2 linked regions of the Homo sapiens genome follow. The protein of the gene in region 1 purifies or fractionates together with the protein of each later gene. This does not show direct contact. Each region holds a gene or a part of one and is shown on either strand. Other genes may lie near its edges.

Evidence for each region. Proteins that work in one complex are often made in the same cells at the same time.
Region 2: the proteins of ZPBP2 (region 1) and FRAS1 purify together in Homo sapiens (affinity purification with mass spectrometry, with the first as the bait; one large-scale study listed by BioGRID). This does not show direct contact.

Annotation. Positions count from the first base shown.
Region 1 is NC_000017.11:39,874,565-39,878,223, reverse strand, and holds the end of ZPBP2 (zona pellucida-binding protein 2 isoform 2 precursor), read right to left. Parts: intron 2,971-3,659; coding exon 2,790-2,970; intron 1,543-2,789; coding exon 1,415-1,542; 3' UTR 328-1,414; downstream 1-327.
Region 2 is NC_000004.12:78,063,747-78,067,405, forward strand, and holds part of FRAS1 (extracellular matrix organizing protein FRAS1 isoform 1 precursor), read left to right. Parts: intron 1-2,238; coding exon 2,239-2,270; intron 2,271-3,659. UniProt on the Homo sapiens protein: Involved in extracellular matrix organization. Required for the regulation of epidermal-basement membrane adhesion responsible for proper organogenesis during embryonic development. Involved in brain organization and function.

The DNA.
Region 1 (3,659 bases):
AAGATACACAGATGGCAAATAACCATATGAAAAGATGTTCAACATCAGATGCCATTAGGGAATTGCAAATTAAAACAATAAAATACCACCATACACCTATTAGAATGGTCAAAATAAAAAAAAACTAACAATACCAAATGCTGGGAAAGATAAGGATAACAGGAATACTTTTTCATTTCTGGTGAATGCAAAACGGTAAGCCACTTTGGGAGACAGTATGGCAGTTTCTCATAAAACTACACATAGTCACACTCCGGCAGTCATATTCCTAGGTTATTTACACAATTGGGTTGAAAACTTATGTTCATACAAAAACCTGCACACAAATGTTTATAGCGGCTTTATTTTTAATCACTGAAAACTGGAAGCAATCAAGATTTCCTTTAATGGGCGAATGGATAAACATACTATGCTATATCCATACAATGAACATTATTCAGCAATAAAAAATGAGCTATCAAGTCACAAAAAGACATGGAGGAACCTTAAATGCATATTGCTAAGTGAAAGAAGCCAGTCTAAAAAGTCTACATACTGCATAACTCCAACCAACTACATGACATTTTGGAAAAGGCAAAACTGTAGAGACAGTAAAAAGATCAGTGGTTGCCAGGGCACGGCGGGAGGGATAAATAAGTGAAGCACAGGATTTTGAGGGTGGTGAAACTATTCTGTATGAGACTGCAATGGTGCACACATGCCATTATGAATTTGTCAAAACCCACATAACCTTACAACACAATGAATCTTAATGTGAACTATGGGCTATAATTAATAATAAATTAATATTGGTTCATCATTTGTAACAAATGTGCCACACTAATGCACCATCTTAATAATAGGAGAAATTGTGTAAGGAGGAATGAGGGTATGGGGTGCAGTGGGTGTATGGAACTCTATATATTATCTGCTCTATTATTCTGTAAACCTAAACCTATACTTTAAAAAATACAGTATATTAATTTATCTTAAAAAATAAAATCATAGGGACCAAAATAAATAACTTTTTTGGTTCTAATACAAAGATAATATACACGCCTTTATATCACACAAGAGTGATTCCAAACAAATAAATATATGGAGAGTATACAATTTTTATTTTATTATACTTTGATACTCTTCTTGACCTTACTATACTCTTAGGTACACAGCAACATACCGTTTGTAAACAATAAAACATTTCATTAAAAATAATCCATTAAAACTTCAAGTTTCCTTTGTACACTAGAGATACTGGATTAAATGCCTTCTTAGAAATGCCATGTTAACCATTTATTTTAAAGTTTCCAAAATGCATGTTTTCCAGTGGTTTGGTCTTACTGATTTTACTTAATGGAACTATCTATGATGCTCTGGGATGTGAAAATCATCTTATGTCCCCGACTTCCACAAGTAAGTAACAATGCTTTCACCTCTAATCTTCATATTGCTGATTTTTGTTTGAAGTTTGTGGGCAAGATTTAGCTCCATAGGTAAGGACGGAAACGCAGGTCTGACAAGTTACATTAACATCAGGACTAAAAGTCGCAGGACTACAAACCACTGCAGAGGAAAACACAGGGAGTAATTATAATTTAGAGATATTTTATGCCTCTACTACTTGGAGGTATTCTATACCAACAATATAAATCTGCCTTTAATATCATACCATTTCAGTACCTATATTATACCAGGTAATGTTCAGCCCATTTAAGTTGTGGAAGATTATGTGAGTTTCAAACTTTATAATTTGATGATCTTAAAGATAGGAGAAAGTGAGAATCCTATTTTTTCTTTTACTATCAGCATTTTACAGTATCTTCTGCAGTGCCCCATTTATGAGTTCCTATTTCTAGTTTTCTAGTTCCTATTTCCTAGTTCTCTGCTTTCCAGGTAGGACCATTCTGTTTTCCTTCATTGTACAGTAGCTTAAGACAGAACATTATAGAAATGTTTATAATACAAGAGAGTACATCAGGAAGAGTTAATATACATTAAAATAACTATATTTAGAAATTTGGGCTTTGGCTGGGCGCAGTGGCTCATGCCTGTAATCCCAGCACTTTGGGAGGCCAAGGCGGGCAGATTGCTTGAGCCCAGGAATTCCAAGACCAGTCTGGGCAACAGGGCGAAACTCTGTCTCTACTAAAAATACAAAAATTAGTCAGTAAAAATACAAAAATTACAGATTGCACACCTGTAATCCTGGCTACTCAGGAGGCTGAGGTTGAAGGATGGTTTGAGCTTGGGAGGCAGAGTTGCCATAAGCTGAGACTGCGCCACACTGCACACTGCACTGCAGCCTGGGTAACAGAGCCAGACTCCATCTCAAAAAAAAAAAAAAAAAAAAAAAAAAAAAAAGGGGCCAAGCATGGTAGCCCACACCTATAATCCCAGCACTTTCGGAAGCCAAGGCAGACGGATCCTTTGAGGTCAGGAGTTCAGTCGAGACCAGCCTGGCCAACATGGTGAAACTCTGTCTCTACTTTTTACAAAAATTAGCCAGCTGTGGTAGCTACTGGGGAGGCTGAGGCAGAAGAATCACTTGAACCCTGGAGACGAAGGTTGTGGTGAGCTCAGATGACGCCACTGCACTCCAGCATGGGTGAAAGAGTGAGACTCTATCTCAAAAAAAACAAAAAAAAAAAAAATTGGGGCTTTGAATTTTTACTTCCTTTTAGCTAAATATATATATATTTTTTGGTAAGAGAATCACTGTAAAGATTCTATTCAGTTATGCCAAGTGAATTACTTATATATTCTTCTGACTCTATAACCTAAATGTTTAGATATTTATATTTTATAGTTACCACAACAGCTAGCGCAATTACTGTGTAGACGTTCATTTTTTCCAAAGCCTGGTCGACAGCTATCCAGACGTACTACTTGCAAACTGTGGTCCACAAAATGCATTGCTGGTAGAGTTTTATTAAAGTTATGGTAGAAAATATATGCTTGGCTCCGAAAAAAGTCTTCTATTCGATCTCTTGCCTAAGGTTGAAAAATACCAGAGAAAGGTACAATTACTAAACCATGAACCAAATTTATCCTCCAGTATCACAGGCAATAATGTACTGTAAGCATGCCATACTTAACGTAGATAAATTCCTGAAAAGGTGTGTGTTAACACCAAAATTAGTTAGCTTTGACCTTATCAACTGTTGTCAATTAATATGTGCAATGGTTAAGAAAAATTGGCTGGGAGCGGTGGCTCATGCCTGTAAACCCAGCACTTTGGGAGGCCAAGGCGGGCAGATCGCGAGGTCAAGAGTTCGAGACCATCCTGGCCAACATGGTAAAACTCCATCTCTATTAAAAATACAAAAATTAGCTAGGTGTGGTGGCATGTGCCTGTAGTCTCAGCTACTCAGGAGGCTGAGGCAGGAGAATTGCTTGAACCTCGGAGGCGGAGGTTGCAGTGAGCCGAGATCGTGCCACTGCACTCCAGCCTGGCGACAGAGCGAGACCCCGTCTCAGAAAAAATAAATAAATAAAAATTAAAATTAAGATTAGGCTGGGCGTGGTGGCTCACGCCTGTGATCCCAGCACTTTGGGAGGCAGAGGTGGGCGGATCACTTGAGGCCACGAGTTCGAGACTAGCCTGGCCAACATGGTGAAACCTCGTCTCTAATAAAAAATACAAAACTTAGCCAGGGGTAGTGGCAGGCACCTGTAATCCC
Region 2 (3,659 bases), on another chromosome or scaffold:
CTTTGAAAAGAAATTGACTTTGGAAGGTAATGCTGTGGAGAGCAATAAAATTATTTGAGGATAGTCTTATTTTAAAGATTAAATTTTGTTTGTGTTTTTTCTAAAAGTTAAGTTTTGTTTAATCTAAAGTTTAAATTTTGTTAAATTGTACCTAAGTGATGATGATCTTTATTCTAAATTTTCTAAACACCAGAAATAATTAAATATGTCCATATAAGTAATTTAGAAAGTGAATTGTGTTCATATGTATTTATTTGAGATATATAGAATTATTTTAGTACACACATCACACACATACATATGTACACATATATATATTTCCTTTCTTATAACATACCATAGACTGAACTACTAAGTCTTGGAACAAGATTTCTTAAGGAAAAAGTAGTCAATTAAGAAGAATTTTCCTTCAAGGTTTTATCTCAAGTTATTCTTATTAGAACTTAAAGAATAATAATAAAAATAAATAAATAAATAAAATAAAAAAATAGGGAGTGTCTATAAAATCATTCATTTATAGACACTCCCTATTCCTTTCTTTCATATGTATAGAAATAAATTCCTTTTTTCATATGTACAGAAATTTTAATAAATATTAATGCCATGGCTAGAAACTATTTTAAAGTAAAATAATAAGTTTGTGTAAAATATAAACTCAAAAATGACATATTTATATTAATTATCCTATGTCTGCAGAGGAAGAAATACAAACCATTAAAAGTTGGAAATGTCATTAGGAGAAAGGCACAAGGGTGTCATAAATTTATAATTTTTGCTTATACATATGCCTTGTACTTAGCTAATGTGATGCCTTCATATTCTGGGTGAATTATATTAAAACACCAATAAAATTGTTGTATACCAAGAAAAAAAAAAAGAATATCAGGGACATAAAAATTATTTCAATAAATTTGCCCACAGAGATCTTTGATTCAAACCTAAGTGTAAATAGTCATCTCAGTTTTTTTAAAGATTGTTCTTAATTCCATTACTGGAGGAGAAGGTAGACCAATTCTTTCCTGAGAAGTTAATATTATTGGGACTTCATAAATGATCCATTAGAGGTAAGCACTGTGGTAAAATAATGTCCTTCTCTCTTTAGAAACCAACTGTGTGGAGCATTGTTAAGATATGCTTCACCTTGGTGTGTATATACTGTTCAAATGTGTTTTGCAGACTCAGTTTCTGAGAGAGTAGGTGACAGCACACTGCCCATCTCTTTCTAAGTTAAATCAAGACCTGTTGTGCAGCTCAAAAATTGGTTGGGAATGTGTCTATATTTTTTTTAAGTTAAGATTTCAGTTTTATAGTGTATATATATATATATATATATATATACATACACACACACACACTAAATACTACATATGCTATTTATACTATATATTATATATATACTATATATAGTATATAGTGGGTATATATGTATATATATGTGTATATATGTGTATATACTATATATGTACTATATATGGTATATAGTATATAGTGGGTATACATGTGTATATATATGTATATACTATATATGTAATAGTATATATGTAATGGTATATATAGTGTATATATTCTCTCTATATGTAGTACACACACACATATATATAATGTAGTGGGGTAAATACAACATTTCAACATCCTTAGAAAGGAAATACACAAGAATAAATTCACAAATGGAGGATGTAGGCACAAAATGCTAGGAGCTCAGAGGAGCATAATCTGGTGGGCAGAAGTTTCACAAAGGAGATGGGATCAAGTTCAAAGAGCTTGACTAGACAAAGTACATCTCCTGTAGAAAATGAAAATGAGCAAAGGCATTGAGACATGTAAATATATTACAGGATTCTAAGTTGGCCTCTTGGGTTGGACTGGAGGCTTAGTGTAAGCAAACAGTGGCAGGGAAGCCTGGATAAGTAAATGGGACTGGATTATGGAGGCTTTGCTGACTTATCACCAAGAAAAATATTTACTGTATTTATAGCATGTCGTTATAAACACATTTATCTTAAAATTCAAGTCATAAGTTTTAATGATGCTTTTCCTCATGTGTGTCCAAGGAATGTTGTTTTGGTGTATGGGGTTATTTCCCCAGGGGAAGAATGCTGAAGCTTTTAAGATTTTGGAAGAAGCTCATTTTCCTGGTTATGATGCATATAGATGCAGTTTTAGCAGCAAGCTTGCTGGGGCAGTGCCTATTGGTTTATTATGCATCCCTTTTAATTCTTGTTTTGTTTTTCCCCACAGGTGCTTGTGTCTATCAGGATTCCTTGTTGGCGGTAGGTCATTCTTTACATACTTGGTTTCTGTCATTTGAATGTAAAATGCTTGATTGAAGTTCCTGAGTGAGTGAGTTGACCCTATCATTGTAGAATATGTTTATTTTTCTTCAACGTTTGACAATTAGCCCTCATTCGGGCACAATGATGCTCAATTATTTAATACCTTTTCCAGAGTGAATTAGTTCTATTCAGATACTCAGGTATTGGAAGAGAAATTCAAACACTCAACACACGATTTACATTCTGTGGCTGTTCTTTGTGTTCTTTTAATCAGAGAGAAAATTAGATCCCATCCTTTTGTCAGATACAAACTGAAACACAATTTTTTAACTTCTGGTTGCATTTGCTTCCCACTTTGAACCCTTCTCCAAAAAAAGTATGATTATTAAATTAAGTAGAATAGGAAGGATTTCTGTTGTTACTTTGAATTATAAACTTAAGTTTTGGTGAACAGCAAAGAAATTAACATTTATTTCTGAACTCTTGCCATATAGGGTAAAATTGATTTTGAATTTAATGTCAGAATGACTTGGGGGAAAGGCTGATGTAAGTCTCATGCATTTCTTTTCATTACTAATGCACTATGGTGCATAACAGTGTGTTAAAGCCTTATTGAAAAGACTGTCTACACTCCATCAACTCTAATAAATGGTGTGACAAATCATTCTTCACCATGTTTTTATTTTGGTTTAATAAATGCTATAATAAAACTGAACTGAGATGGTTGGAAAGAATTTGCTCATTTACATCACAACCTGCTATTGACATGTGTGATATTGATAAGTCATCCTGGATTATCCTTGTGGTATTGAAATAGCTGAGGAATATCTGAAGTATCTTAGAGTCTAGATAACTGTAGATATTCACCATAATATCCTTGAATCTGCACTTTATATACTGTAGTTACTGCTGGAGAAGTTTATTTTTTAAATATTTTTCTATCAAAAATTAGGAAAAAGCCATTTTTATTGTATTTGTCATTCCATATCCTGCCCTGTTTATTCTTTAATATATTTTAGGAATCATTTGCTCTAAAATATATTATCACTTTTGGGGAGCTACAGTAGATATTTAGACAAGTCAGTTATCCGTGCTAATAAAAGAGAATTATTTATTGTGTAGAGTACTTCATAACTTTTCCATATATTTTCATAAGTATTCATATGTCTGATACTTATAATAGACCAATGAAATAGGCAGGCCATGTATCATTCCATACTCTTTCCCCTTTTAATGGAAAAGATGAGAGAGAGAGATGAAGAGATTTGCTAGAGGTAATTCACCATTAGTGGTGGACCAGAACAAGACATCCTGTCTTCTTCTGTTGTTCTGCCTATATGTGAAAAAAAGTGGCTAGACCATCTTCTATATTTAACTTTGCTATGT